Homo sapiens: one gene and its partners. The protein of the gene in region 1 interacts with the protein of each later gene in a pairwise test. Each region holds a gene or a part of one and is shown in the gene's direction. Other genes may lie near its edges. The genes, in order: LMTK2, TPTE2, STYX and PPM1F.

The links.
Region 2: the proteins of LMTK2 (region 1) and TPTE2 interact in a two-hybrid assay, tested with the Homo sapiens proteins (one study listed by BioGRID and IntAct).
Region 3: the proteins of LMTK2 (region 1) and STYX interact in a two-hybrid assay, tested with the Homo sapiens proteins (one study listed by BioGRID and IntAct).
Region 4: the proteins of LMTK2 (region 1) and PPM1F interact in a two-hybrid assay, tested with the Homo sapiens proteins (one study listed by BioGRID and IntAct).

What each region holds. Positions count from the first base shown.
Region 1 is NC_000007.14:98,200,022-98,208,996, forward strand, and holds part of LMTK2 (serine/threonine-protein kinase LMTK2 precursor), read left to right. Parts: intron 1-3,552; coding exon 3,553-3,685; intron 3,686-3,922; coding exon 3,923-4,165; intron 4,166-5,442; coding exon 5,443-5,471; 3' UTR 5,472-8,975. UniProt on the Homo sapiens protein: Phosphorylates PPP1C, phosphorylase b and CFTR.
Region 2 is NC_000013.11:19,422,377-19,425,532, reverse strand, and holds the end of TPTE2 (phosphatidylinositol 3,4,5-trisphosphate 3-phosphatase TPTE2), read left to right. Parts: intron 1-515; coding exon 516-586; intron 587-2,368; coding exon 2,369-2,471; 3' UTR 2,472-2,656; downstream 2,657-3,156. UniProt on the Homo sapiens protein: Acts as a lipid phosphatase, removing the phosphate in the D3 position of the inositol ring from phosphatidylinositol 3,4,5-trisphosphate.
Region 3 is NC_000014.9:52,766,842-52,775,816, forward strand, and holds the end of STYX (serine/threonine/tyrosine-interacting protein), read left to right. Parts: intron 1-1,998; coding exon 1,999-2,092; intron 2,093-4,191; coding exon 4,192-4,265; 3' UTR 4,266-8,148; downstream 8,149-8,975. UniProt on the Homo sapiens protein: Catalytically inactive phosphatase. Acts as a nuclear anchor for MAPK1/MAPK3 (ERK1/ERK2). Modulates cell-fate decisions and cell migration by spatiotemporal regulation of MAPK1/MAPK3 (ERK1/ERK2).
Region 4 is NC_000022.11:21,927,966-21,936,940, reverse strand, and holds part of PPM1F (protein phosphatase 1F), read left to right. Parts: intron 1-2,714; coding exon 2,715-2,917; intron 2,918-3,361; coding exon 3,362-3,550; intron 3,551-5,649; coding exon 5,650-5,793; intron 5,794-8,975. UniProt on the Homo sapiens protein: Dephosphorylates and concomitantly deactivates CaM-kinase II activated upon autophosphorylation, and CaM-kinases IV and I activated upon phosphorylation by CaM-kinase kinase. Promotes apoptosis.

The sequences.
Region 1 (8,975 bases):
TTATTTCTATTCTTCCTCTTTTTAATAAATTGAACATTTTTAGTATTACATTTTTCTTTTTCTTTTTTTTTACACTGTTCTCTTTGCGTAGTTTTTGTAGTGGTTGTTCTGGGGGTTACAATGTATGTATTAAACTTCTCACAATCTACTTAGAATCTGTATTTGCATATTTCAGATGGAATGTGGAAACCCTACTGTCACTTAGGCCTTTTGCCCTCCGTCCCCTTCTTGACATGCTCTTCTATGTTGCATACATGTACACTGATAACTCCTCAGACAGTGCAACACATTTGACTTTCTGTCATCAAACACATTCTAAGAAACTCAAGAGGAAATGAATAGTATTATACAGTTGGCCCTGGAGCAACATGGGTTTGAACTGTGTGAGTGTACTTATAACATGGCTTCTTTTCAACCCAAAACAGATCGAAAGCACAGTATTCTCGGGATGTAGAACCTGTGTATAGATACGGAGGGCTGACTTTTTGTATATGTGGGTTCCGCAAGGCTAACCACAGGACTTAGTATGCACAGGTGTGGTTATGCACGGGTGGTCTTGTCACTGATCTCTGTTCAGATCGTTTCTGGAGTTGTCCCTTGGTTTCCAAGAAGTGGTGGTTCCATAATTTGGATACCATAATTAGAGGCTGCCCAAGTGCTTTATATGAAATGGCATCATATTTGCATATAACCTACACACATCCTCCTGCAGACTTTCAGTCATCTCTAGATTACTTATAATGCCTCATACACTGTAAATGCTATGAAAATAGTTGTTATACTGTATTATTTATTTTGTTGTTGTTGTTGTTGTTGTTATACTGTTATTTCTTATTTGTGGTTGTTTCTGAATGTTTTCTGTCCTGGTTGGTTGACTCTGAGGATGTGGAACTCTCTGATCTGGAGGGCCTCCTGTCCTTCTGTTCTTTTTCATTATTGATGTTCTAGGTTTCCTTCTGGAACCCTTTCCCTTCTAATTAAAGAAATTTAACTAGCTTTTCTTTTCTCTCTTTTTTTTAAAAACCCATTTTTTTGCAGGATTCCTTTTATTTTTAAATAAATTCTCTTAGTTTTTTTTTCCATCTAAGACTATTTCACACTCATTCCTGAAGCCTGTTTTCTCTGAGTGTAGAATTCTGTGTTGATAATTGTTTTCTTTCAGCATTTTAAAAATGTATCCCTTCCTTCCACCCTCCACGGTCTCTCATGAGAAATTTGCAGTCACTCAGATCATTCTTCTCCTAGAAGTACAAGTGGAGCGTCCCTTATCTGAAATGCTTAGGACCAGAAGCATTTTAAATTTCTGATTTTTTCAGATTTTGGAATATTTGCATTATACTCACCAGTTCAGCATCCCAAATCTGAAAATTTGAAATCCCAAGTGCTCCAGTGAACACTTTGGGCGTCATGTCAGCGCTCAAAAGGTTTTGGATTTTGGAGCATTTTGGATTTTTGGTTTTCCGATTTGGGATGCTCAAGCTGTAATACATGTTTTATCCCTGGCTGCTTTCAAATCTTTGTCTTTAGCTTTCAGCAGTTTGATTATGGTGCATCTGAGGGTGGATTTCTTCGTGTGTGTGTTTTGTTTTGTTTTGTTTTGTTTTGTTTGAGACAGAGTCTTGCTCTGTCACTAGCTGGAGTACAGTGGCACGATCATAGGTCACTGCACCCTTGAACTCCTGGGCTCCAGTGATCCTCCCTCCTCAGCCTCCTGAGTAGCTGGGGCTACAGGCGTGCACCACCACGCCTAGCTAATTTTTAAATTGTTTGTAGAGACAGCATCTCACTGTGTTGCCCAGGCTGGTTTTGAACTCCTGGCCTCAAGGGATCCTCCTGCTTCAGCCACCCAAAGTGCTGGGATCACAGTTGTGAGCCACCCCACCTGGCCCAATTTCTTTGTATTTATCCCGTTTTTGTTTTGCTAAACTTAAATCTGTAGTTTTGTATCTTTCACCAAATTTAAGAAGTTTTCAGGCATTCTTTTCTTCTAGTACTTTTTCTGCCCCACGCCCTGTCTCCTCTCTTCCTGGGACTCCAGGGTTAGACCCTGTGTATTCTCTCATAGGTTCTGAGGCTCTGGTCCTTTCTTCCTCCAGGTTTTTTTTTTCTTGCTCTTGTTTGGATTGGGTGATTTCTGTTGCTCTGTCTTCAAGGTCCCTGATGATTTCCTTCGTCATCTCCATTATGCTGTTGAGCCCATCCATTGAATTGCTAGATTTTGGTTATTATACTTTTCTTTTCTGAGTTTTGCTTTTTGTCATTCTTCTTATCATCTGTTCCTTTGCTAAGATTTTCCCTATTTCTGTTCATGGTAAGAGTGTTTCCCCTTAGTTGTAGGAGCATTTTTATAATAGTCCTTTTTCAGATAATTCCAACATCTGTGGTACGGTGACACTGGCACCTGTTGATTGTCTTTTCCCAGGTAAATTGAGGTGTTCCTGGTTTTTGTATGTGAAGTAATTTTAGCTTTTGGATCCTCCTATCATGTTAGGCAGTCTGTGCCATGTGTAAATGCTGTGAATCATGTTGATACTTTTACCTTAGCAGGCCTTGACCCGGTGGGTGCAGGCCACAAGCTCCAAGCAGCCTTCTGTGGGTTGTGGTTTCAGTGTCAGCTCCCAGTTCCCCTTTCAAAGCCTTCGCTGTGCTGTTTGAACCTGCCCCACGTGTGTGCCCCGCACCCCACCCCGGTCTCCCCTGAGGTTCATTTTCAAAGCTTGGGTGTGTTCAGAGTCAGATCTACCACACACAGCCCAGGAGCCCCCCAGCAACTTCATCGGGTCACCTTTTTGAGCTCCTCCCTCTTCTGTGATGTCCCTGATACTTGCAGTTCTTTGGGCCTCTGCTTTCTGGTCCCCTAGCTAGAAAGTTGAGGCTTTAGTTACACGATGTGCCATACTTCCTGCAATCGCACGCGCATCTGGAGCCAAGCAGTGGGAGGACAGAAGGGAAAAAAACTCAGCGAGGGTCCCCTCCCGCTCGTGATCACAGTCCTCCAGTGGAGAGGAGGCTTCATGGCCCTCAGGATTATAGGCAGCTGTTGCCCCAGGATTGCTTGAGACTGGAGAGCAAGAGAACAGAGAAAAGAAGAAAGCTGGAATTCCCCCTTCTCTTTCTGAGCATCAGAAGACCCCCTTCCTGCTCCGAAGCCAGAACCAAGGGCTTCTCCTGGAGCACTGTGTCCAGGGCAGTGCCCACTTTGGATTCCGGGCTGACCTGAGTCCAGGCGGGGGATTGTGGAGGAGAAGCCGACACACTTGTTGCTGGTGGGTGGCACCTTGAGCACTGCCGCTCGTGCCCGCCTGCCTGCTGCTCTGCGCTTCTCTGCAGCCTCAGAGGGCTGCTTCATGCCTCTGCCGAGGTCAGAGCTGCAGGCAGAGGGAGAGACAGGGCCTAGTGTCTGTCCGTCCTCCCAGGCCTGGAGCCGCCCTTGTCTTGAGACGCTTACTTCTCAGTCGATGAGTCTGATGCGCCTGCCAGTGGGGAAGCGGTCACACGGGGGGTTCCCGTGAGCAGGCCTTTGCTGACAGGAGTTTCTGTTTGACTTTTCAGGAGACCCCAACCAAAGAGCTGGGGCCCTGTGGAGGAGAGGCGTGCGGCCCGGACCTGAGCGGCCCAGCCCCAGCCTCAGGCTCTCCCTACCTGAGCAGGTGCATCAACTCCGAAAGCTCCACCGACGAAGAAGGTATTTCACGTCATTGTCTAGTTTTAAAGGAAACTGAAAAATTGAGTAATGTAAAGGTTTTTTGAGGGTAACTTCCCATGTTGCTTTAATGACGCCCCCTGACATGGGCACAGAACTGCCATCTGCCAGCCGGGCCGGGCTGTGTCTTCCGACCTGCAGGGCGCACCTGCCCAGAGGCTCCCCCTCTCCCTCATCACGCAGTGATAAAAAGGGTGGGGTTTTATTTTTTATTTCTAGGTGGTGGCTTTGAGTGGGATGATGACTTCTCCCCAGATCCTTTTATGTCAAAGACAACAAGTAACCTGCTCAGCTCCAAGCCTTCTCTCCAAACATCCAAGTACTTTTCTCCGCCGCCACCGGCCCGGAGCACGGAGCAGAGCTGGCCGCACTCGGCGCCTTACTCCCGGTTCTCCATCTCTCCCGCCAACATTGCCAGCTTTTCCCTCACACACCTGACCGACTCGGACATCGAGCAGGGCGGTGAGAGGCGCTGCGTGCTGGGGATTGGGAGTGCAGGGTCGGGGGTGGGGCGCTGCAGCTGGGAGATGGTGGTTTTGCAGGCCTGATAATCTCATGTCTTCTTCACATTTGCTGAGTAGATTACAAACTTGTTTTTATAAAACTCCCATCATCAGCTGGGTGCAGTGACTCCTGCCTGTAATCCCAGCTACTCAGGAGGCTGAGGTGGGAGGATCAGTTGAGCCTGGGAGTGTGAGACCAGCCTGGGCAACATAGTGAGACCCCATCTCTAAAAAAAATAAAAACTAAAAAATTAGCTGGATGTGGTGGTGTGCACCTGCACTTCAGCTACTCAGGAGGCTGAGGTGGGAGGAATGCTTGAGCCCAGGAGTTCAAGGCTACAGTGACCTATGATTGTGCCACTGCCCTCCAGCATGGGTGACAGAGCAAGACCCTGCCTCTAAAATAAATAAATAAAACTGCCAGCATCCTGAGTGTGCTCTCGGGGCCATGCCCCCTGCCTGTTGTGGTCACTCTCAGGCTCGTTACCGGCCACCCTGTGGGGCCAGGCTGAGGCAGAGGGGCTCTGGGTCCCAGGAACGCCCAGGCTGCGCGCCATCTCCTCTTTTTCTCCTGTGGCTGCATAGTCCCTCCTCCGCACTCTGTCTCCTCCTTTCCCAGAGAGAACCTGCTCTTCAGCAGGCTCGTAAGAGCACTTGACCCCTGGACTTGGGACCAGCCCACATGCCCTCTGGTGCTGCCCCTGGAATGTTGGTTTTGCTGCTGAGTCTTGGTCCTGGTGTGGCTCCCGAGGGCGGGGTGGGGTGAATGGGCAGGGGCCATTTGAAGTCGAGGTATCTGAACATAGGGAGCCTTCTTTCCCCGTCACTAGATTGAAAGATAAAGGTTAATAGGCTCATTTTTTGATTGGAAGTTTACAGATCAAATAATAAATATGGAATACAAAGAGGCTTTATTTCCCTCGGCGCTAGGCTTCATTTGTGCCGATTAGATAACACCTGCTATCTGCCAGTCTGTCGGGGCAGATGTGTGGATCCCAGCTGACTTCTTCTGCACCCTGACCCTTAGCGCCCAGCGGGCATTTGAGCCTAGCAGATGTGGGAGAGTCAGGCAGGGGCTGCTTCCGAAGGAAAGGACAGGAAGGGCGGCTCAGGCGGTGCTGGGCTCAAAACACCCGCTTCCGTTCCTGTGGTGCAGCGCACATGCCATCCACGCCATGCCTGTCTGATCATTTTAAAAACCCAGCTTTGTCGTCTCGCTTCCTCTCTCCTCAACAGGAAGCAGCGAAGACGGAGAAAAGGACTAGGTGGCTGCCAACGCGCACGCTCGGGTCCGAGGCTGCTCCCCTGGAGCGGCGCCCCTGCGCCCTCAGCCCGAGCAGCGACATCCACTCGCCATTTGCTGACATGAGATTGGGAGGAAGAATCCAGAGGTGAAGAGGGAGACGGCTCTTAGCTGCGTTCAAGGCGGGGCCCTCGGGAGCCCAGGTGCAGAGCGAGGCCGTGTCCAGGAGCCGGCGTCCCTCAGTGCCCCGTGCACCCGCGGCCGCGGCCTCCCAGGCAGTGCTCATGCGCTGGCCGTCGGGGGAGGCAGGGGCACAGCCTCCATGTGCGCGCGCGTGTGGAGCTGTGTGCACCGCATGTGTGCTTTCCACAGGGGCGTCTCTGCGTCCACGCCTGCACATCCCGGCGCACGTGTGGGCACCACAGAGGACACGTGAGGGGAATGGTCACCAGTGAGCCATATTTATTATTTCTAGAGAAATCACGAACTGCTTTCTGTAATTGCACTGTGGATAAATGTTCCGAGAGTCTCCATTGTTGTACAGGATCTTCAGTTATTCGAGGGGAATGAGGCAGGTCAAGCCGATGCTAGCCACTAGTTTGATTTTTTTTCTGTTTTATAGTTTGCGCTGCATGGTACTTGTGAAGCTTAAATATTTTGAGTGTTCTACTGTGTCTAGGATTGTTGGGATTGTACATATGGTACTCTTTCATAAATGATAAATGATTCTGAATGTTAGTGTTTTATGTTCATATAGGAAATATTTTCATTGAGTCCAAAATACCACTGTTTTGTTGATGGACTTGAATGCATTTTTGTCTCTTCTTGATGAAGCGGCTTTGCCGCAGCAAATGAGGCTTCTCTCTGAGGAGCTGAGAGGTCTTGCAGCCTCTCCTTGTCATTCTCCCACCCCACATCCCATTTTTTAAAGCCCTTTTGGTAAAAACCAACAGGTTGTGGCCGCAGACCTCAGATGGACCCGGCCCATCCCTGGGGACGTGCTGGCGTGGCAGGTCCAGAGAGCTGCACCCTGCACGGGGCACCGCACCGCTTCCCTCCGCGCAGCTCTTCTGCCTGGTTTTCGGAGGCCAGGCTGCTGGGAAGCTTCCGTGTTCCTGTCAGTCCTTCCTTCAAGAAGCCGGGGAACTCAGGCAGACTCATCTCCGCAGAGCATACCAGCCGTGGGGGACCGTTCGACTTGATGATGTGTGCACACTTCAGGTGGTGGGGACTTGAGCTTTAAAAAAACCTCCACAGCCGAATCTTCTCCTCCGAGCCACTCCACGTCACGTCCAGCTGGGCCTGGCCAGTCTGTGGTTATCCATGTGGGATGAGATAACACCACATCCTGCAGCTGTGAAGGGGGATGGACAAGGGACGACGGCCGACGGCAGAGCATCAGCAGCCGACACATAGTTCGGGTCGGGGCCTTGGGTGGTCCTGCATGGCCCGGGACTCATCTCACGGACCCTCCGTTCTGCATTAAGCCCCAGGTTCTCTTCTGGCTTTGAAAGGGCCCGAGTGCTCCCAGTGTAGCTTCGTCACATCGTCACGAGCCCCTGTGGTCATGGGCGACCTCACACCTCCCTCCCTGAGTTCTGCTCTGACATAAGGAAGTCCTCGGTGGCTGGTGCAGCGCGGCTGTGCTGTGCTGGGGAGGCAGCCGTTCCTTCGGGGGTCCTTGGGCCTGCAGTCCCCTCATACTCACCCTTCACCCAACATATTTTCCGGTGCTGATATGTTTCCAGACTCCAGCGCAACCTGGGGTGCTCTCCAGACCCGTGCAGGGGCCGCCTGGGGTACACGGAAGGAAGTTGAGTCCTAGTGCAAAATGCAGGCGGACGTTGCCAGAGAGTGCGCAGCAAATGACCTTCATTGCCAGTTCCACCCTACTCCTCTCATTTTTTATACTAAGCAATAACTTTCCAAAGCAAGAAGTTCAGGATGGAGAGAGTCCCCTCCTGTGTAGGCATGGGGTGGATGCGGTGCCCACCTGGGCTATGTGGGGAGCACCACTGTCTCGGGATGCGCGAATTTTTTTTTTTTTTTTAATTAACAGGGCATTAGAAGATGATTTTGCCAAAATTGTCATGACTCTGAATTCTTGCTGTGGGGACTTCCTGAGTTTTCTCAGTTTTTACATCTAAGATTAGTCTTGGCTGAAGAGAAATGAGACGTGATTATACTACTTTTTCAATTGCAGGTTTAAGGAGTTCAGATTTAATGACCAAAGTCATACAGATCATGGAATCTGTCGTCGTCTTATACAGTGTCAGCCTCGAGTACATTTATTAACCTTTTGGGGCTGTCAGTTTTCCACTAGGATTAAGATTTTGGCCGGGCGCGGTGGCTCACGCCTGCAATCCCAACACATTGGGGGGTCGAGGCGGACGGATCACTTTGAGCCCAGGAGTTCAAGACCAGCCTGGGCAACATGGCGAAACCTCGTCTCTACTAAAAATACAAAATATATATATATATATATATACTAGCTGGGGCACATAGTGGTGTGCACCTGTAGTCCCAGCTGCTTGGGAGGCTGAGGTGGGAGGATGGCTAGAGCCCAGGAGATGGGTGTTGCAGTGAGCTGAGACCATGCCACTGTACTCTAGCCTGGGTAACAGCCAGACCCTGTCTCAAAAAAAAAAACAATTTTTTTCATAACATAATTCCCATTTTTATTTATTTTGAGTCACTCATAATTAATTGCCAAAAAAGCATTTTATACATTGAGTTGGGGGGTAGTGGATCTTAGTGTGGTGTTGCATGGAGGGGCGAGATTTTATATTTATAATCAACACGTGGGTTAACATGTTTTTTTGAAATCCAAGCAATACACAGGAAATTTAAGTAGAATAAAAATTGCAGCCCATTTTTGAAATGTCAGCATGTGCTGTGTTCAGTTCAGGTTTTTGTTGTTTGTTTTGTTATTTTTTAACTAATAAGTTGGTTATCAGTGGTGGGTTTTCAAAATGTACTTGTTCTAATAAGTTGTACAATGAACTAAATCAGTGGCATTCTCTAGATAATGTGGGGGAAGGTTAGAATATTTTCTGGCCTTCTATGGGGTAGCAACCCAGAATCAATCTGAATTAGTCCTGTTTTGGTGGAGTTTGTACATTTTAAATCCTATAACAAAAATAATCTAGTTTTCATTTCCTTACTAGCTAGATGCGAATTTGTCTTTTTGAATGACCCTGTCAATAAGCCAGAAAGGGCAACCCAGAAAAAGTGCTCCCCACATCCTTCTGAGACTTGGCCTGTGTGTGTGGACGAGAAGCCATTCACCGTAAGGGTGCAGAAAGCTCGACCAAGCCGAATTGCAAACAACGTTCGTTCTATTTTTAAATGTACAGGTTCGATCGTTTCTATAGAAATGGGTTTATCTAAGAAAAGTCTTGGTTTGTCTTGCTGCTGTAAAAGGCCTTTCCAAACCCCTCCTTTTATTCCTGTTTCCCGAAATAAGGTATTTGTAGAGTTAAGGACCTACTGCATGCCTGTCCCCAGGGCCCCGGTGGAAGGAAGG
Region 2 (3,156 bases), on another chromosome or scaffold:
AAGTGGTCATCAGGAGAAGGTTGTATAAGGCAGATATCAGGATCAGTCACATGGAGAAACTGGGAGGAGGTGAACTGGAAACTGCTGAGGGTGACTGAACCCCGCTTCTGAGATCAGAAAATACAATTTATAATTAAAAGGGATGCTGAGGCAACAAAAAAATTATAAGAATTCACTACAATGTAGTTGGGTATATATAGGCATAGGTCCTTAGTAGCATCTGTTTGGCACTATCTAAACCAGATTCAAATAGCAGCATTTAAATTAAAGACCTATCATGGGAAAAACACTATTCCTTGAAAATTTTGATAGAAACAGCAAGAGAATGCAATAGCATTTTCTTAAAGCCTCCTCCTTTGTGTCTTGAGTGTATTGTTATAGATTGCAGAGTGCTACCTATTTAATGGTTATAATTGTTTGATAAATATATAAAGGAATAAAGAAAGGAACTTTAATTTCTTTGGAATGATTAGTTCCTGGTGTCAGTTTTACTTTGAAATTTTTTTTCTTTTTAGAATCTTCCTAAATACTATGACAATTGTCCATTTTTCTTCTGGTTCAACACGTCTTTTATTCAAAATAACAGGTATGAATATAATAGAAACCCATAGAAACAGCCTAATCTTCAATGTCTATAAATAAGGTGTAATGGCAAGTCTTTTGCTGGTTGTCATAAACTTAATTTATAGAAAGCAAAAAATCCCTGAGCCACCATTTTTCCTTGCCTTACTCCTCTTACTTTGGTTATTTTAAAAATACATTTGTTCTTGAGACCCACTGTTGCAGTATCCTCAGGGTCCATGCCATAGGACTGTGTTATGAGTTCAAAAGTATTATCATCAGATCTTAAGTTTGGTAGTAAATTCCTCCCAGAGAAGTTCAATATGAGTCTGCTCAGCACCTTCAGTATGTCAGGTCCCTGTCAGTAGGTGCTGATTTACCAATGACGAACCACCATCAACTTTTGTGCTAAAGTAAGGCAGGACCTAGGGAGGCTTCAGCTAGCTGAAAAGCTGACGGACACACTTATATCTGGGAGAAGTTACAAGACACAGTATTAAGGAATACAGCTAAGAAATATCATTAAGTAATAGTCTATTTAAATAGCCATTCAAATGTGGCTTTCTAATAACTGAATTGGGAAAACTTTCTGAAAAATTACTAATTGGGTTTGGAGATTATTGTTCCAAAAAAACCTGCCATATTTGGAACCACATTTCTCAGTCTAGAAGTTCTCCACTATAAGTAGCATTTGTTTTGTGATGGTGAAAAATTGAGATTTTTTTTTGTATCAACCATACTCTTCAATACAAAAGGACAAAATATTTTTTAAATGATTTAGGTCAGAGTTGAAGAAGTGGCTATGATTATATGTGGCATGAATTGATAGTTATTGTTACATCCAGTCCTAATCTTTTCTTCAAACGTGAACTGGATCGAATAACTCCTTAAGTCCAGCAAGGCAACAGGAAATTAAACCTCTGGTCTACACACTTGCAATGCAAAACATTTAATGGATTTTGATAGAGTCAACTTTGGATTTGATGGAAATTTTTTACAAGTATTTTTTTTAGATGCATACAAACAATAAGCTTTTTCTTCTAACATGAGCAAAGTCCCTCAAAAAGTGAGACCTGGGTGGAGCTTCATTTGATGCTGCTCCTCAAAAGTGGTTCTTGCTAAAGGATACCGTTTTTTTCCTTTAAAACACTGCGTTCATTTTGGAGAAGTGATAAGCTAGATCACTTTTATTCTTACTTTTATATAAATTTCTAAAGATTTCTGTAACATTTAAATTTACATACTACTTGGTAAAGCTGTTTTTGTTAGTTATGAGATTGTTGTTTAGCCAAAAATGCTAACTTCTATCATTTAGAACACCAGGCATAAATGGGTTAACCAATTTATGCCTAGTGTTCCATTATTGGAACGCTAAGCATATGGGAGTTATAGCCTACTGCTCAAGGTCATTTCCAAGGTCTGATTGTAAAAATTCAAAAAATTGCAACTTCACACATAAATTAAAAGAGATATAGTATTTTATTCCTGGGTTTTCATTCATGTCTATCCTGACTGATTTCTGTCACAGAGAGAAATTTAGATATTTTATTAAACTTGGATGTCATTAATTCCATATAAAGCAATGCTAAGAGAGTCAGCATGTGTTACTGATGTGTTGCTGAAGATTAAAGTATTTTTAAGTCTCACTAAAAAGGTGGAAGGAGCCAACTGAAATGCAAAAAAGGGTCTGGGGTTCTATTCATGGTGAGGTTTTTTTTTGTTTCTTCCAGCTCTAACGTGGGTACCCAACTGCGTGGCTTTTTGGTGAGCCCCAATATAAAATGTAATTTTTTTTTTCTATTCTTAGGCTTTGTCTACCAAGAAATGAATTGGATAATCCACATAAACAAAAAGCATGGAAAATTTATCCACCAGAATTTGCTGTGGAGATACTTTTTGGCGAGAAATGACTTCCAATGATGTTGTAGCTGGATCCGACTAAGTATAGCTCCCCCTTCCCCTTCTGGGAAAGAATTATGTTCTTTCCAACCCCTGCCACATGTTCATGTGTCCTAAGTCTTCCTTGATGATGCATCTATATTTATATATGTTTATATATGTTCTTCATAAATCTATTAAATATATATAGATAAAATGTCAGTGTTTTTCTTCTTTTTTGAAGGCACATACTTCACACACTTTCCATCTTGTATTTACATAAATTTGGAACACAGTATGCAGGAACATCAGGCATCATTTTGAAGAACTTTGAAATAGAACTTTCATGGCAAAAACTTGAGATATTTAAAAATTGTGATTCCCCAACACCCACTTACTTACATATTTTTGGTCAAGTATTTATTCCCTGCTTTGGTTCACATTTGTAATTTCAGATTTATTAGAAAGCTAATTTATATATTTTTCTTCCCCTTCATTTACAAACAGTCTGTTAACAGATTGGCAACCAAGACTAAGTTTTAAATCCAGAAGAGAGAAATGTTTCACATAAGCAGTTCCCCAACTCCCAACACACACTCTCTTTCATTCCGAGCATTAAATAGGTAGCTTACTTGACAAGCTTCCTTTAATTACACACAGACATGGGGGTTGGGGTAAGAAGACTGTGGTAAATATGAAGATAAGTAATCTTTGGTA
Region 3 (8,975 bases), on another chromosome or scaffold:
TCTTTTTTTTTTTTCCACTTGATTTTTCTCACGTTTGTTTTCCATGTCCCATGCTGCATTGTTTCATTAAATATTTATTTGGCATTGTTTTAGTTAGGCACTGACAGTAAAGCAGAGAACAAAACAGACAATAATCCTTGACCTCACGAAACTTATTTAGTGGGAGAATCAGACAACAAACAAAATGTAGTAGGCCAGAAGTAATGAATCCAAGAAAAATAAGGCCATGTAAGGAAGGTGGGACGAGAATTGTATTTTTAGAAGGGTGGTCAGAAATGGGCTTACTGAAAAGTGATATTTGAGCAAAGACCTAAAGAGATGCACGTATTTGGGGAAAAGCATTTGAGGTAGAGGAATAAGTGTAAGTGGTTTGAGGTGGGAGCATAGTTCTTAGAAGGATACTCATTTCATCATAGGGCCAGTCCTCTCATGACCTCATCCCAACTTAATCACCTGCCAAAGTCCCCACATTAAGTGTTTGGACTTCAACATATGAATTATGAGGGGAATGCAAACATTCAATCCCATAACTGCCATATTTTCTTTGATTAATTTGTTCATAGTTTTCATCTGCTTCATGGTATAAGTTTTATGGCATTTTCTTTATGACATTTGGTTATACTCTTGCTTTTCTGTTTTTGTTTTGTTTTGTTTTGTTTTTTCTTGCAAAATCTTTGAGTAAGACCTAACTGGTTCCTTCTTGATTATTGGTCATCTTTGAACTGGAGGTATTCGTCTTAGATCAGCTATTTACCCAAGAATAAAATTGTGGGAAAGGGGCCAGAGGAGTGGTTGGGGAAGGCTGACAGCTTGAATTTTCCCAGGTTCCTTTGGTGGCATGAATCAGTGAGTAAGAAGCAGAGCTCCTTATATCACAGGTTTATTTTGTTTAAATTGATAAACACTGATTCATATTAGAATCACCTGGGGAATCCTTACCCATGCCAATGAAATCAAAATCTGTGAGAGTGGGGCCTAGGTATATAGGTTTTAAAGTGCCTCAGGTGATTCTCATGTATATCCAGGCTAGAATTGCTGATTTAGCCTTTACTTTTAGCTATCCAAGATCAACTGATGCTTGGCTACATGCAACCAAATTTCACTTCCGCCTTACCATACTTAAACAGCCTGCTGCTTGCAAAAAATGGCAGGTGTAGGTGTTCACATTTTCCTTAATATGTCCCACCTTCTCCCATAGGCCACTCATATTTCCTGACTTTGTCATACCATGCAAGGGCTTGTTGGTTTTATTTTAGGTCACCTTTTTTAGCGAGCTATGAACTGTACCTACTCTGGCCCACAGAGGAGTTATCTGCTATGCCTAGCTTAGGATGGTTCTATTTTTTTTGAAAATTTTATTGTGAAATTATAATATAGAAAATGCATAAAATGTAAATAAACATCCATGTAACTATTGCCGAAGTATGGAAACAGAATGTTTACCAGGACACCAAAAGCCTTTTTCATGCCGCTTCTCAGGCACAAATCTGTTTCTCCCTCTGTAAAGTAACCACTATCCTGACGTAGCTGGTAATCAATTCCTTTTCCCCTCATTCTTCTCATTTTCAGGGTAATGGATGTTTCCTAGTTTCATCAAATGTTTTCCTTGTTTTCAGAAAAGAGAGAAACAAAAATGCCTTTATTCTTCTATCTATAACTGGAAGCAGAGGACTATTGAGATTGCCAATTTAAGTTTTTGGTGTTTTTTGGGGTTTTTTTAAACAGATGAAGTCAGAGATCATTATAGCTAATGCCATACTGACTGGCAGTTCAGCATGCAGTACCCTAGCACAAACTATTAGCCGGGCTTGATTTATAGTTATCAGTAGTTCTGAATTTATGAGACAGGAATTTTAAACTTCCATTTCTCTTCAAACAATATGGCACTAGATTTTTCAATACAGATGAAGAATACCAACAGTGTATACATTAATCACTATTTTGGGTATCCAAGAATGTAAATATATAATTAAGTTAATTAACTTATTTTTTTTTTAGGAATATGAAGCCATCTACCTAGCAAAATTAACAATACAGATGATGTCACCACTCCAGATAGAAAGGTCATTATCTGTTCATTCTGGTACCACAGGTAAGGATTTTTTTCTTTTTGGAGAAATTTGGGAAGAAAGATAATGAAAGGTGGAGAACTTGCTACAAGTTACACTGAACAATTTAAATTGTTTAGAAAACTTGTTAAACTATTGAGCTAATTCCAGAAGGATTCATTTTATAATGAATAAATGTGTACTATAATAAGCTTAAGTCTTTCAAGTAGTAGTACATCCGTGTTGTAAAGATTAAAATAATACGAATCTGGAGAAGGGGCCCTAAACACGCTTAGGTGATCTTATTAAAAGTAGAGGGCGGTTAATACAGCGTGTAGCATGGCTAATGTGAGCTTCTTTCTCTTGCCATCAATATTTCCATCCTTTCCTCCCTCTGTTGCTATTTCAGAAGTACCCTAAGCCCCTTATTTTCAAAGTTAATCCAAGCATGCTCTTAAAATCTTCCTTTCCCAAGACCTTGCTACCTGTGTTTATCACCTTTGTTTCTCTCCCAACAAAGCACACAAGGCATTTTTACTTTATTTCCAGTTTTTCCTACCCTGCAGTTCACTTCAATCTTTGAACCAACAGTTATATAAGGTAGTAAGAACAGCTTATATACTTAGCACTGACCTGGAAATTGAGGACAGGTGATCTGATCCACAAGTATAGAACTCTTTGCACTCTACTGCACTGCCCATAGTGAGTAATATGACTGTATATTCATCCCCAAGGCTCAACTTCCTAATTGTCATTGACTTTTTCATTTCCTTTGCCACATCTGTCTAATAATTGCTCTCCACATCCTATAGGGTCCGTTTTGTCAGTATTGTTAACATTCCTTCCTTTTTTTAATAGTGACCTTAATCTAGTTCAGGTCCGGATTTGCCTCCTTTCCAAACTCTTGTTATTTGGTCTGTTCTGTACATTGTGGCCAGACTTATTCCCATGAAAGATATTTCTAATATTGATATTTTTCCTTTGCCAAAGCCTCCTTTGGCTTCATTCCTACAAAAGTTTATAGAATGCCATATGCCCTTCTGATTTTTTGGTTTCTTTCTCTCATTGTTCTTCTTTATGTCTGCATTTCAGAAAACAACTGCTGATGGTTTCCTGTGTGTGTCTTCTTTTCCCCACCTAAAATGCATCACATTTAGTCTCCCTATTCTTGGTTCATATGTCATCTCCTCAGGAAGACATGATGATTAATGCACTCTTCCTTTAACCCCTAGTCATTTGGAGTTCCCATAGAAGCACAGCACTTCATCTGAAACTTAATCACAGTATCTGGGTTTAGCCTGAGGGCTAGGATATTTTATCTCATTCAATTGTATTGATACTATATTTTTATCTTTATGAATTTTATAGTGAAACATTCTTCAATTAGAATATGCCCTCTGAATTAACATTATTATTACCATGATATAACAGTCCTGTAGGGCATAAGTTTAAGGTCATGCCATTGTTAGGCAAAAAACACAGCAGACCCTCTGCTGGTTTAACTGTTCCCTAAAGTTTTCCTCCATTGAGAGTCTAATTTCTTGATTATAACTTTTGGGGATACAGAGATAGCTTTGATTCTATGTGGGAGATTTCTGTACTAGCAGATGCTGGTATGAAGAATAGATAAAAGAAAATCTCTTTATATGCTACATGCCTTCCTTTCTCCCAACCTAGACTTCGATAGCTTGAGTGGAAAAATATTTTCAGCTGCTCTTCATAACAGCCTCTGTGAAAGCAAAAAGATTATCTACAAAAAATTATACAAATACAAGATTAATTTCCTAAATTTTATGCCCTAAGTCACATGTTTATGGTGCCTAAAAAACAATTAACTTGATAACTAAACATTTATGTATTATCTCTTGAAAAGGTCTATTTTCACACTATTTCAAAAATTATTTATTTTATATGCAATACCTAAGACATAATACTTGAGAAGGAAAATATATCCTGTCATGAAGATTAAAAAGTTATAATATTTAGGTAATTTATCACAAAGGAATTTACTAAATTTTGCTATATCAGTTGTGGAATTTTCATAGTGTATACATGATCACTTAATAACAAAATTTTACTTGCTGTAACCTTTTAACATGAATTTATTTTAGTGCCCTTTTAATCTTCATGCAATAACTTTTAGGCAGTTTGAAGAGAACACATGAAGAAGAGGATGATTTTGGAACCATGCAAGTGGCGACTGCACAGAATGGCTGACTTGAAGAGCAACATCATAGAGTGTGAATTTCTATTTGGGAAGGAGAAAATACAAGAGAAAATTATAATGTAAAATGGTAAAAACATAAGTAGTTTTTTTTTCAATTACATGTTGCTTCCAGACATACTTCTCTGCAACTTGTTGAGCAACATTTTAAGATGTTGGACTTCTGCAATAGATGACACTGATGGTTTTACTCCTTTTTTTAAAAACACATGCGCGCGCACACACACATGCTTTACAAGTTTTATTATAAACCAAGAATTTTGGACTTGCAAAGAGGTATTATTGCAATAATGCACTTTTCATACTTGAAATTTATTTGTATGATATAAAGTTATTACTTTAAACAAAATGCAAGTATGGGGGGATTGTTTATAAAGTTTGGGTAATTTATAACAAAATTTGCTAAGGTTTGCTAAAAATTCATTTTTCTGTTCTATATATTACATTTTTAACATAATTTTACAGTTCAATTTTATGATGGAGCCTCTTACAGAAACATTAACAAAATGCAGGAATCTGCCACATTTCTTTTTTAGTATAACTTAATAGCTTAATTACCATTTTATTTTTTATACTTCTTCCATTATTAATCTTTAAATCATGATCCTAATTAGCTGTCCTTACTTTAACTTGATCTAATTATTGCTTCCTTTCTTATTACTTTCCTAATTTTTCTATATTTTAAAAACTACAGTTTCCATGATAAAAGGAAAACGTTTTGATTTATAGTACCAAGTGCTTAAACACAAGGATAGTGTTAGATTTTCGAGTGACTTTCCTTTTTGCATTTTTTGGCAGTAAAAGCCAAACGTTGTATTTGTTCTTTTCAGAGTTGTCCAGCCCTTTTTTCCTTTGTCCAAAATGATTCTAAATAGAATCTAATAAACCAATGTAGCATTATTTTTTTCTAAATGAAGCCCCAAAAAAGAAAAGTGCCTTGCATCATTTAAAAAAAATAATTAAATCCTCATGGCCTCTAAATTAGTATGTAGAACACTGAAAAGTTCTTAACATTTTTGTGTAATTTCCTTTCTTTTTAAACCATAAATTAGTTTAAACTGAAAGTACGAGGCTGGAAGAAATATTAGTAAATTATTTGGAATATAGAATGTTTACTCTTTCTTTTTATGTTGTCTTAATGATTCTGTGAGATTGTTCCGGCTCAAACAGAAGCTTTTCTTTGGGGAAGGTGATTTGTGGGAGACTAGTGTATTTTAAATTAGCATTTTAATCCATTCTTGACATTCAGTTAGTCCAGATCTGCCCCATAATTTGCTTTAGTAAAGTCACTTTATGGATTTTTGGCTATGTTTTAGTTTGTGTGTATAAAAGTTCTAAGAAAACATTTTTGCTATTTTAAGTATGTAAGGGAAGAGAGGAGTGTTTTTAACTTTTTATAGTTGATGACTTTAGGGTAGCACAAACAAAACTCCTTTGTATCTAACTTTTCTCAATCCTCTCTTGAGGTGCTTTACTAATGGGAATGATTTCTGTATGTTCCCTTGGTACCAAGAGGTACTATGCAAAGTAACCTATTACACCAAGTTACTTGCTTTGCTTTCCTCTCTATGATGTGATAATACAGTAAAAGCTTTCTTACCCAGCATAGTGGGAGAGTGGAGATTAATTAAAATTGTTAATTAAGAGTTAATTCCTATTGACCCAGGTGATATTTCTCTTCTGATTTCCCTCCCCTTCCCTTCTCTTATCTTACCACTGTGAAAACAGCATATTGTTAATCTCGTTGTCGTCCAGTATTCTGCTTTGTGATTAGGTCTTTTGATGTACAGTGGTCTAGTGGAGTCAAGATTCGCATTGGGTTTTCTAAAATTCCAGTTGATAAAAGTTCCAGATAACACAGCTTTCCTGTATATAGATCACTATTGGGCAGGTCAGCAAAGATCTCTTACAGTGTAATAATAATCTATGATGCTTCATTTAGCAGAAACTCTGCTTAAAAGAATCTTCATAATAGTAAGTTTAGGTTTTAAAAACTTGTTTCATAAATATACATATATCCTCTCTAGTAGTCTGGCCAAAAGAACAGATTTTGTTATTGATAATTTGTAGCTGGTAATTTTCCACATTTTCTATCCACTGTAATTTTTATGTTGTCACTGAAGTGCCTGCCCAGTACTGTATATTACAGTCTCTCACAAACACTGGGAAAAGGGACTGTCATCATCTTGAGTACTCTGTGTGTATATATATATATATAGATAGATAGATTTTTTTTTTTTTTTGAGACAGAGTCTCTAATGTCACCCAGGCTGGAGTACAGTGGCACAATCTTGGCTCACTGCAACCTCCACCTCCTGGGTTCAAGTGATTTTCCTGCCTCAGCCTCCCAAGTAGCTGGGGTTAGAGGCACATGCCACCATGCCTGGCTAATTTTTGTAGTTTTAGTAGAGATGGGGTTTCACCATGTTGGCCAGGCTGGTCTCAAACTCCTGACCTCAAGTGATCCACCCACCTCGGCCTCCCAAAGTGCTGGGATTACAGGCGTGAGCCACTGCGCCTGGCTGAGTACAATATTAATGTAGACAAACCATGAAGTTTATTATTTCATATAAGAACATTACAGGTTTGTTTTTTCTTGCATGTCTGTCCACCTAATGTTTAAGTAGTTCTGGTAGCTCTTCCTATTCTTTATTCTATTTGATTCCATTTCTGTGATTCTTTTATTACCACTGATGTTTTGTGATAGTTAACTATGATAAATTTAACTGATCATGATTTATCTTCTAGAGTATTTAAATAATGTATGAGTGACCACCCAATTCCAACATTAAAAGTGTAATCTGGGCCCATAATTTATAGTGAAATTGTATCAAAACATAGGGAAACTGTATTACTGTCCATTTTGAAAATATGAAACTTGAGTATTGAAAATATTCAAACATGGAATGGCAGTATTCTAATTTCAGTTAGTTGGTTCATGTTAATTTCTTACCTGTTAGATGTTTAAACTGCAGTGACCTTTACTTGTATCTACTCTGTGGTGGAAATGTTAAACCATGATAGCTTTTGCTACCAACTCAACCACTTAACTTTTAGAGCAGTTTTGGGGAGAGTTTATGCTTCATCTGAGTTTAGAAGTAATGTCAGAAAATGTTAAGCATGTCTGTATTAAGAAAATATAAGGTTTCTAATTGTCTTATTAATATGGTAATTCAAGTGAATTAGAAATATTTAACTGCAATCTTGAATTATAAAGTTGAGATATATATATATATGTATCAAGATCTCAACTTGATGTAAAGTAAATGAGCAGTTACCTGGCGGATTTTTTTTTTTTTAAATAACTGATTTAATCCATAATCCCATAACAAACATAGCTTCACCTCAGTATTTTCTTTCTTTCTTTGTTCAACAGTGCTCCGATAAGGGAATGCTAGAAAATAGATGAGAAGTACTGAAAGACCTTTTTTTTTAATTGATTAGAAAAGTAAGTCTCTAGGGTCTTTGAATGCTGGAATTTTTTTTTTTTTTTTTGTCTTTCCCATCTGTGGCAGCTAAAACAAAAATCACTCAAAATATTCAGGTTTACATGTTAGCTCTCTCTCATAGGGAGCTGCCATACCTCACAGTTCAAAGTGTATTCTATAGATCAGTAACATTATACTGACATGTAATTGCAATTTACTATGCAGCAAAAATGATTCAAGAAGAAAAATAACCTACAGTGTCTGTATACCTTTGTATACACAATTGCTTAAGTTACTCTGCTTTTAACATTTGTACTTGGATAAAATGCTTATGTCTGTATAGGAATGTCACAGTGCAAGATGCTGCTAGCCCAGGCACAAAGTATTAAAATTATTTTGTGAAGATTGGTGGTTGTATTAAAACTGCTGTGCCATTATACCTCCAAAATATTGAAAAGCTCATTCATACTGCTGCTTATACCTCAAAACTTCTTTACTTAGATTGTTATCTGCTGGGTAAAAGTAACCCAAATTTACTCTGAGTTAAGAAGAGTGGATGAACATTGAATGTTGAGAAGCACTTAAGAGTATACTCTAAAACACTGTGGTTACACACACACACAAAATTATGGTCTGTAGTCCAGGCAAGCCTCAAATTCCAGCTCAAGTTTATTTTTAAGGATTAGTTGAGCAAGTTTGGAGTTGGAAGTGAGAGAATCGTGTTTAAAGGAAAGGGTAGGTCATCCACAGAACAGCTTTCAGTCATTACAAAAAAAAAATACTTCTTGCTTTTATATTACCATCTTCCCCCATTAGGCCTACCTGCATACTGTGCTTCATCAAATCTAAGATCACCTCACAACTATACCATTATTTTAGGCACCACTAAAAGACAGTGTATTGCTAACAAAACTATGATAAACCATTGATAATATATCCAGATTTCAGAGATGTTACAGTGCATCTTAGTTGATGAAACAAAAATATACAAAACATGAGACACAGTAAAAATGATAAGTACCACCTCATTATACCTTTTCACAAGCAAATAGTGGCCAAAGATGTGAACGGCCAGACACGGTAGCCGACATATGTAATCCCAGATACTCTGGAGGCTGAGGCAGAGGATCACTTGAGCTCAGGAGTTTGAGACCGGCTTGGGCAATATAGTAAGACCCCACAGAAAAATGTAAAGCCAGGTGTGATGGCACACACCTGTAGTTCCAGCTACTGGGGAGGCTGAGGCAGGAGGGATGGCTTGAACCCAGGAACTGG
Region 4 (8,975 bases), on another chromosome or scaffold:
ATGAGTATTGTGGCTTATATTATTTGTTGCTACATAACAAATTGCCCCAAATGTAGTGGCTTAAAACAACAGACATTTATTCTCCCAGTTTCTGTGGGTCTGGAATCTGGGAGCAGCTTAGCTGGTTCTGGTCCAGGGTCTCTTACTGGGTTGTGGTGACATGGTTGCTGGCTGGGCTGGAGGGCCTGCTTCCACGGTGGTTTCAACACACGGCCACTGACAGGAGGCCCTGGTCCCGTCCCATGTGGACTCTCCGTGGCGCTGCTTGAGCATCCTCACAGCTCAGATTGAGCGATGAGAGGGAGGGAGGAAGAGAGTGAGAATACACAAGGCGGGAGGCGCAGGGCCTCTTTGTTTCGTAACACCTGAAGCACACGCAGTCACTGCCACTCTTCATCAGAAGCAGCCAGCTCCCACACTCAGCAGTGGGAAGTGAGCTCCACCTCGCAAAAGGGGAAGTCAAAGAATTTGTGGACATGCTTTAAAGCCACTGTCACACGAGACTAACACTTGTAATGAAAAACTGGGGAAGTATTAAGAAAGTGTACTTCAGGAAAAAGCTGTCCGTGGAACTGCCACGTGCAGGCCCACTCTGACACCTTGGTTGTGTGCTGTTCCCGCCTTTTTTTTTTTCTGGCCCTGGTGGTTTTTCATGGACTTGTAGTTAAACTGCATATGTAATTTTCCTTCTTTTTTCACTTAGTATCATGACAGAAGCATTTTACATGCTTATAAACTCTATTAAAATCCATTTTTTAGTTTTCTGTTTTAAGAGACCAGGTCTCCCTCTGTCACCCAGACTGGAATGCAGTGGTGTAATCGGAGATCGCCGTAACCTCGACGTCCTTGGCTCAAGGGATCCTCCTGCCCCAGCCTCCCGAATAGCTGGGAGTAGATATACCACCACACACAGCTAATTTTTTTTGGTTTGGTGTTGTTCATTTGCGACTGAGTTTCGCTCTGTTGTCCAGGCTGGAGTGTAGTGGCTCAATCTTGGCTCACTGCAACCTCTGCCTCCCGGATTCAAGCAATTTTCCTGCCTCAGCCTCCCAAGTAGCTGGGACTACATGTGCATGCCAGCACGCCCAGCTAATTTTTGTATTTTTAGTAGAGACGGGGTTTCACTTTGTTGGTCAGGGTGGTCTCGAACTCCGGACCTCAAGTGATCTGCCTGCCTTTACCTCTCAAAGCGCGGGACTACAGGCATGAGCCATGGCGCCCAGCCTGTTTGTTTTTAAGAGACAAGGTCTCTTTATGTTATCCAGGCTGGTCTTGAACTCCTGACCTCAAGCAGTCCTCCCACCTCAGCCTCTCAAAGTGCTGGGATTACAGGCATGAGCCACTATGCCTGGGCTAGTTTTTTTTAATTAAACTTTTTGTTTTGAGATAATCATAGCTGCACATGCAGTTGTAATAAATAATACAAAGAGATTCCATGTATACTTTACCCAGTTTCCTCCAATGGTAACATTTTGCAAAACTATAATAAAATATCACCACCAGGATCCTAACATGGTCAAAATACAGAGCAGTTCCATCACCAGGATCCCTCCTGTCACCCTTTTAAGGCCACCCTTATACCCCCACCCCTACAGACCCCATCCCTAACCACTGGCAACTACTAATCTTCTCGGCTTCTACCATTTTATTATTTCAAGAACACATATAAATGGAAGCATATGATGTGTAACTTTAGGGGACTGGTTTAATTCTCTGGAGATTAGCCCAGGTTGTTTGATGCATCAGGAGTTCATTCTTTGCCATTCTTGAGTGGTATTCAAAGGTATGGGTCGACCACGGTTTGTTTAACCATTTCCACGTTGAAGGACATCTAGGCTGACTCCAGATTTTGGCTGTTCCAGATAAAGCTGCTATGAACATTTGTGTTCATGTGTTCAAGCTTTTATGTGAACAGCCTTCATTGTTCTGGGATAAGTCCACAGGAGTGCCACGGTGGGGTCGTATGGGAGTTGCATATTTCGTTATGAAAATCATATTTAATAGCAGCTTAATTCTTCATCAAGAGACTAGATCTTTTTTTTTTTTTTTTTTTTTTGAGACAGAGTCTTGCTCTGTCGCCCAGACTGGAGCATAATGGCATGATCTCGGCTCACTGCAACCTCCGCCTCCCAGGTTCAAGCGATTCTCCTGCCTCAGCCTCCCGAGTAGCTGGGATTACAGGCGCCCGCCACCATGCCTGGCTAATTTGTGTATTTTTAGTAGAGACGGGGTTTCACCATGTTGGCTAGGCTGGTCTCGAACTCCTGACCTCGGGTGATCCGCCCACCTCGGCCTCCCAAAGTGCTGGGATTACAGGCGTGAGCCACTGCGCCTGGCCGAGACTAGATCATAATTTAAGTATTATTCCTTTGTCATTGGATATATAGTATTTCTAATTAATGGGCAATTATAAGTGATTCTGTACTTTGTCTTTAAAATTATTTTTGTGTTTCTGATGATTTCTTCAGGGTGGGTTCCCATGAGTAGAGTTGCTCCATGGTGGGATGGGAGACTTCAAGGGGCAAGTTGCCAAACTAGACATTTCTAATTCTGGTAACAGGCTGCCATGTGCGCGTTATTGAGTTGATGTGCTCACAATGCCCCGGGAGGTGATGGGGGCTTTGCAGGCCCCTGTGGGAGCTGTCAGGGAGCCAGCGAGGCCTCAGCTGGCTTGGTTGGCACTTCCCTGACAATCCCTCCATTGTGCCCATCAGTGCTGGATGCCCAAAGCCTGGCACAGAGTTTCTTTAACCGCCTTTGGGAAGTCGCCGGCCAGTGGCAGAAGCAGGTGCCATTGGCTGCCCGGGCCTCACAGCGGCAGTGGCTGGTCTCCATCCACGCCATCCGGAACACTCGCCGCAAGATGGAGGACCGGCACGTGTCCCTCCCTTCCTTCAACCAGCTCTTCGGCTTGTCTGTGAGTGCTCCCGTCCAGACCCTGGGGACAGCTTCGGAGGACCGGGGCGAGGGTGGGGGCCCCCCAGGTACCGAGAAGAGCTGCCCACCAAGGCTGAGACAGGAGAGACACCCGTCAGCCCCTGTACTTGCCCAGCAAGAGACTAAGAAGGGCAACAGTGTGAGTCTGTTATGAGGGAGGCCTGGATGCCACGTTCCCCTGACTCCTGCACCAGGAGCCACCTGGGGCAGCCCCTCATTTTATGCTTGTAGCAACTCATAACAGATGGTGAAACCGAGGCTCCCGCGAGCTGTCCTTTTCCAAACCTACCCCCTCATACGCACATAAGCCGGGCGAAGGCCATACTGATTCTCCCAGACTCTACCCCATCAGTGCCTGGCGCCACGCCCCACTGGGAGCACCCTGGGTCCCGCGGGTCTGTGACTCCCACCACATCCCCACCAGGACCCTGTGAACCGCGCCTACTTTGCTGTGTTTGATGGTCACGGAGGCGTGGATGCTGCGAGGTACGCCGCTGTCCACGTGCACACCAACGCTGCCCGCCAGCCAGAGCTGCCCACAGACCCTGAGGGAGCCCTCAGAGAAGCCTTCCGGCGCACCGACCAGATGTTTCTCAGGAAAGCCAAGCGAGAGGTGAGGACTGGCCGCTGGGCCTCAGGTGCAGTTTGGAGGCCAGTGAGAGTCCCAGCCTCTGCAGCGGGAAAAACGCCAAAGGGGCTGGTGGTGCTGGAAGGTCCTCACTAAACACTGCCGGTGGTCCTGCCATTTTTTCTAAAGGGGCTTGGTTTTCACTTGAACGGAAGCAGCACAAAGCCTGCCCCGACCCAGCATGGTGGGCCTCTCAGCCACACAGACCTGCCTGGCGCAGAGGGTCTGCTGGCCTCGGGGAAGGCAGCTGTGGTCAAGCGTTCCTGGGATTTTGTTTTAATGAGATATGGCAAGGTGACAGACACAGACCAGGACCTTAACAAAGAGTCTACTACTCACAGTTCCTGAGAGGAGGGGCCACGCCTCACAGAGCCATGCATGGAAAGCACTGAGGTAGTCGGGGCGCAGAGAGAAGAGAGGGAAGCTGGGCCAGAGCCGTCTCTGCATCCTCCCCAGGTATTTGCTGTCTCGAGGAATCAGCTGGCCTGGGAAGGGGCAGCCCCTCCAGGACCAGCAAGGCCCCAAGTTGTCAAAGCATCATAAAAGGCGGAATATGTAAAACCTGATTAATCTACTGCCTTCCTCCCCTTCCTCCTCTAGGCAGGGTCTCAGCAGGCTACCGACGTCCTCTGGGAACAATCCTTCCTCGGGAGTTATAGCCATGTGCAGGGATGAGGCATTTGTTTCTGAAAGAAGAAAGAATACAAATGCATCAGGCCCCTCCTCTGTGAACTTAGCCACTCTGAACCTCACCCACAGAATTTCACTAGGTCCTCCTTGTAGCCCTGTGAGGTGAATACTAATATTGTACCCATTTTAGACATTGGGAAACTGAGGCTCAGGTTGCTTAAAAGACCCGCCCCAGTGAGAAGACACCAGGGGAAAGGTGCACTTTTGTCACACGCTCTGAGCACAGACCTTCATGGAAATTAGCAGAGCCAGGCTTTGCATCTCAATAGAAAACCATGCAATCTCTGCAGCTGCAAGGACCCCAGTGAAAAGCAGGCAAGCCTCCACTCCTGGCCTCTCACCTCAGCCCCAGGAAGTGACAAAGGCCTCTGAGCTCAAGGCAGCCTCAGAGTAGAAAAGGGATTCTCTGAAGCAGGCGTAACTGCTTTATTGAGGCTGGGCACAGTGGCTCACGCCTGTAATCCCGGCACTTTGGGAGGCAGAGGCCGGCGGATCACTTCAGGTTAGGAATTCGAGACCAGCCTGGCCAACATGGTGAAACCTCGTCTCTACTAAAAATACAAAAATTGGCCAGGCGCGGTGGCTCATGCCTGTAATCCCAGCACTTTGGGAGGCTGAGGTGGGTGGATCACTTGAGGTCAGGAGTTTGAGACCAGCCTGGCCAACATGGTGAAACCCTGCCTCTACTAAAAATTAAAAAAAAAAATTAGCCAGGTATGGTGGCACGCGCCTATAGTCCCAGCTACTTGGGAGGCTGAGGCATGAGAATCACTTGAGCCCAGGAGATGGAAGTTGCAGTGAGCTGAGACTGTGCCACTGCACTCCAGCCTGGGTGACAGAGCAAGATTTTGCCTCTAAATAAATAAATAGCCAGGCGCAGTGACTCACGCCTGTAATCCTAGCACTTTGGGAGGCCAAGGCAGGCAGATTGCCTGAGCTCAGGAGTTCAAGACCAGCCTGGGAAAGAAACATGGCAAAACCCCGTCTCTACTAAAAACACAAAAAATTAGCCAGGCGTGGTGCTGTACGCCTGTAATCTTAGCTACTTGGGAGGCTGAGGCAGGAGAATCACTTGAACCCGGGAGGCGGAGGTTGCACTGAGCCGAGATTGTGCCACTGCAGCCCAGCCTGAATGACAGAGCAAGACTCTGTCTCTAAATAAATAAATAAATAAATAAATAAACATCTTTATTGAGATACAATTGACAGGTAGTAAGTGGTGCATATTTGAAGTCCACAATTTGGCAAGTTTTGGCTTATACACATATACACCTGTGGATTCCTCACCACAGTAACGGAAGTATTCATCACCCCCGGAAGCTTCATCCTGCCCCGTGTCATCCTCTGCCCTTCCCTACCTCCTCTCAACTCTCATGGGCCCTCTCTCCCTGCAGCGGCTGCAGAGCGGCACCACAGGTGTGTGTGCGCTCATTGCAGGAGCGACCCTGCACGTCGCCTGGCTCGGGGATTCCCAGGTCATTTTGGTACAGCAGGGACAGGTGGTGAAGCTGATGGAGCCACACAGACCAGAACGGCAGGTAAGGGGATCCCTGCGCCCAGGCCCAGGATATTCCTGGCCTCCATCATGCTGGGCCCATAGGGGAACCCCACCCAGCCTGGGAACTTCAGGTAGTAGTAATCCTGGCACCTTTCAAGAGGGAGGGCTCCCTGCCTGATTTGAGTGGCCGGGGGTCCCACGTGAGCCCTTCCTGAGAGCTCTGTGGGTCACAGCTATATGGAGCCCAGAGCTCCGGGGGAGAGCAGAGCCCTCTGCACTGACAGGCATCCCAGTGCAGTCAGTGCAGCCCAGTGCAGACCAGAGCCCATCATACACACGGACAAGGAGGCCACAGGCTGTGGGTGAGGAAGGCCTCAGGGAGGTGATGCTGCCCCGAGGCTGGAGGGAACCTGGCTTGGGGCTGTACTGACTAGAGGCTGCCTGGGACCCTGGCACTCAGGTCATCACCTGGACATGAGGATGACAGTCCCACTCAGACCTCTTCTCAGAAGACTGTCTCATCCATGTGTCTCCTGAGGTTGGATTGCGAGCATTCAGATATCATGGAATGACTGTTTATCCCTCAAACCCCACTTTTCCCACGTGCTGTTCTCCACCAGCTATGTTTGATTAACCATGCACATGGTGGATAATTCTACGTCAGCACATAGGAGCACCCATCCTTTCTTGGGGCTGCGGACATTGCATTCATCATGCAGTCCCTTGTGGGTGAGCATGAAGATCTTTTCAGTCTTTCGGTGCTAAAAACAATGCATCTCTACCTACTTTGTGCAGCATTAATTGCTCAGAGTCAAGTGTACCTATATCTGTAGGACACATCCCCAGAAGTGGGATGGCTAGGTTGGAACTGATGCACGTACAGTCTGGGTAGATTTGCCAAGCTTCCCACCTCAGGCCATGCCAGCCTGGGCTGGCACTACATTCCCAAGAAGGTCCATTTCCCCACAGTCTCACCAGGCTGCAGGATTCTTCCTGTCAGGTAAGAAGCCTGTCTTGGGGCAATTGTTAAGTTTGCTTTTCTGTTACAGAGTGAGTTTGAGCGTGTTTTCAAAAGCTGAAGATCATTTACACAGCCTTTCCTGCAAACACTGTTTTTTTCCTTTGCCTGTTTTTCTTATCAGTTTATAGGTTCCTTGTATATGTGAAGGAGGTTGGTTCCTTGTCTGTGATGATTTGCAAATGTTTTTCCATGCATCTTTTATTTTTGTTTATGGGCTTTTGCCACATGGAGGCTTTGTGTTTTTCTGTAGTTGAGTAGTCTTTTTGTGGCTTCTGGTTTGGAAAGCACATAGAGACACCAGGACTTGATGATTGTAACAGTCAGGGGCAGCTACATTCCTTGGCCTTTCACTGCGGCTCACGGTCTGGTATGGGCCCCCTGTACGTCCTCTCCCCATTGTACAGAGGAGAAAACTGAGGCTCAGTCACTTGCCCAGAGCACACCGCCAAAGTCACAGATAGTCTCTGCCACTCCCCTGCCTCCACCACCGTGGGGGAATTTGGCACCTGCTCCCTAGTGGGCTCTCCTCCCCAGGATATGCAGTCAGATGAAATGTGGCCAAGTCAGGATTCGTGCTGGGCCCACTCCCACCTGCTGCCTGCACACCTACAGGCTCAGCATTCAGCACCCCATTAAAGCCCAGTGGGGGCTCTGTTCAAACACTGCCTGAGTCCTGCAGTATGGCGTCGTGGCAGAGCATGGACAGATGGCCTTGCCTGGTCCCGGCTCCACCGCTTCCAAGTCCATCACACAGGGGTCCCTGGAGGTTTGGGGTAAGGATTGAGTGTCCCAGTGCATGTGGAGCACAGAGATCAGAGCTTGCACAAGAGAAGCACACACAGGTGTCTGTGTTCTTGGCTGCAGCCCGCATGGGCCAAGGAGTTCAGATCCAGTGCCCCCCACCTCCCCTTTCCTGCCGCCATGCTCTGTAGGCTTGGCCCCTCCTGCTGTGATCCTGATCACAGCCTTCCACCCTAGAGAATTAATCACAGATCCAGGCCAAGGTTCTCCCACAAAAACAAGCATCATGTCGGTTACAAGAGCAAGAAACTGGCCTCAACTTGGCGAGCTTCAACGGGGGTCCAGCAGCGGCCCAGAGCAGCTTCCAGGAGTACGTGGGGGGAGTGCGTGGTGCTCTGCCTTGTTCTGCGGCTGTCTGAACAGTCTCCTGCCTCTGCACTCAGTTCAGCCTCCAAACACTGAGTGCCCACTCTGCACAAGATACTTTGTTGAGGCAGTGAGATAACACAGGACCCACTTCCTGCCTCTAAGTCTAATGGGGGAGCAGGAGGAGGGCAAGGACCTGGCAGGATGAGGCAGAGAGATGAATGGAATGGAGCCGCATCTCAGGCAGTTGCAATTCCTGCAGGCCAGGGGAGAGACCAGGAGGAAAGGGCAGGTTATGCCAGAATCAGGGCCAGGTGTGGAGGTGTGCCCCAAGTGATCCTCCCACCTCTCAAGCCTCAGGAGACAGGAGGATGGCTTGAGCCCTAGAGGTTGAGGCTGCAGTGAGCTATGTTCATGACACTGCACTCCAGCCTTGGCAACAGAGTGAGACCCTGTCTTCAAAAAACAAAAACAAGCCCCAGAATCAGTGGGTAGAAGACTCGGGGCAGGGGAGAAGACCACCCACCTGCTGCTCCTTCAGCTGGAAAAGCTGGACTGCCCCAGGCTGGGAGGAACTCTGTAAGGACTCACTAGAAGCTTCTGAAGTGATCAGGCCACTGGAGGACAAGTTGAGGGCTGGGTCACAAAAGTGAGTTCAGGAGGGCAGTGAGAGTCACTCAAGGTCACAGGTCACGCTGGCACGCCTGGCAGGCAGCCTGGGAGAGATAGGAGTCCCGGCTCTGCAGGTGGAGACATCGCAGAGGGCCTTGGGCATCCAGGAGGATGGCAGTGCCATAGGCGACGCTGCTGCGGCCTGGCCGTGTGGAGCACTGCACTCCTAGGAAGCAGGAAATGGCTGTTCACAGGAACCCACAGGCCACCGGCTCCAGCTTTGACCTGGGAAGCTGTTTCAGGCAGGTGGAGAGGATGAGGTTTGAGGAGCAGAGGGAAGAGCTGCTGAGGGGGTGGGCGCTGGGCAGTCGGGAGGCGAAGGCAGGAGATGGCTTGAGCCCTAGAGGTCGAGGCTGCAGTGAGCTATGTTCATGACACTGCACTCCAGCCTTGGCAACAAAGCAAGACCCTGTCTCCAAAAA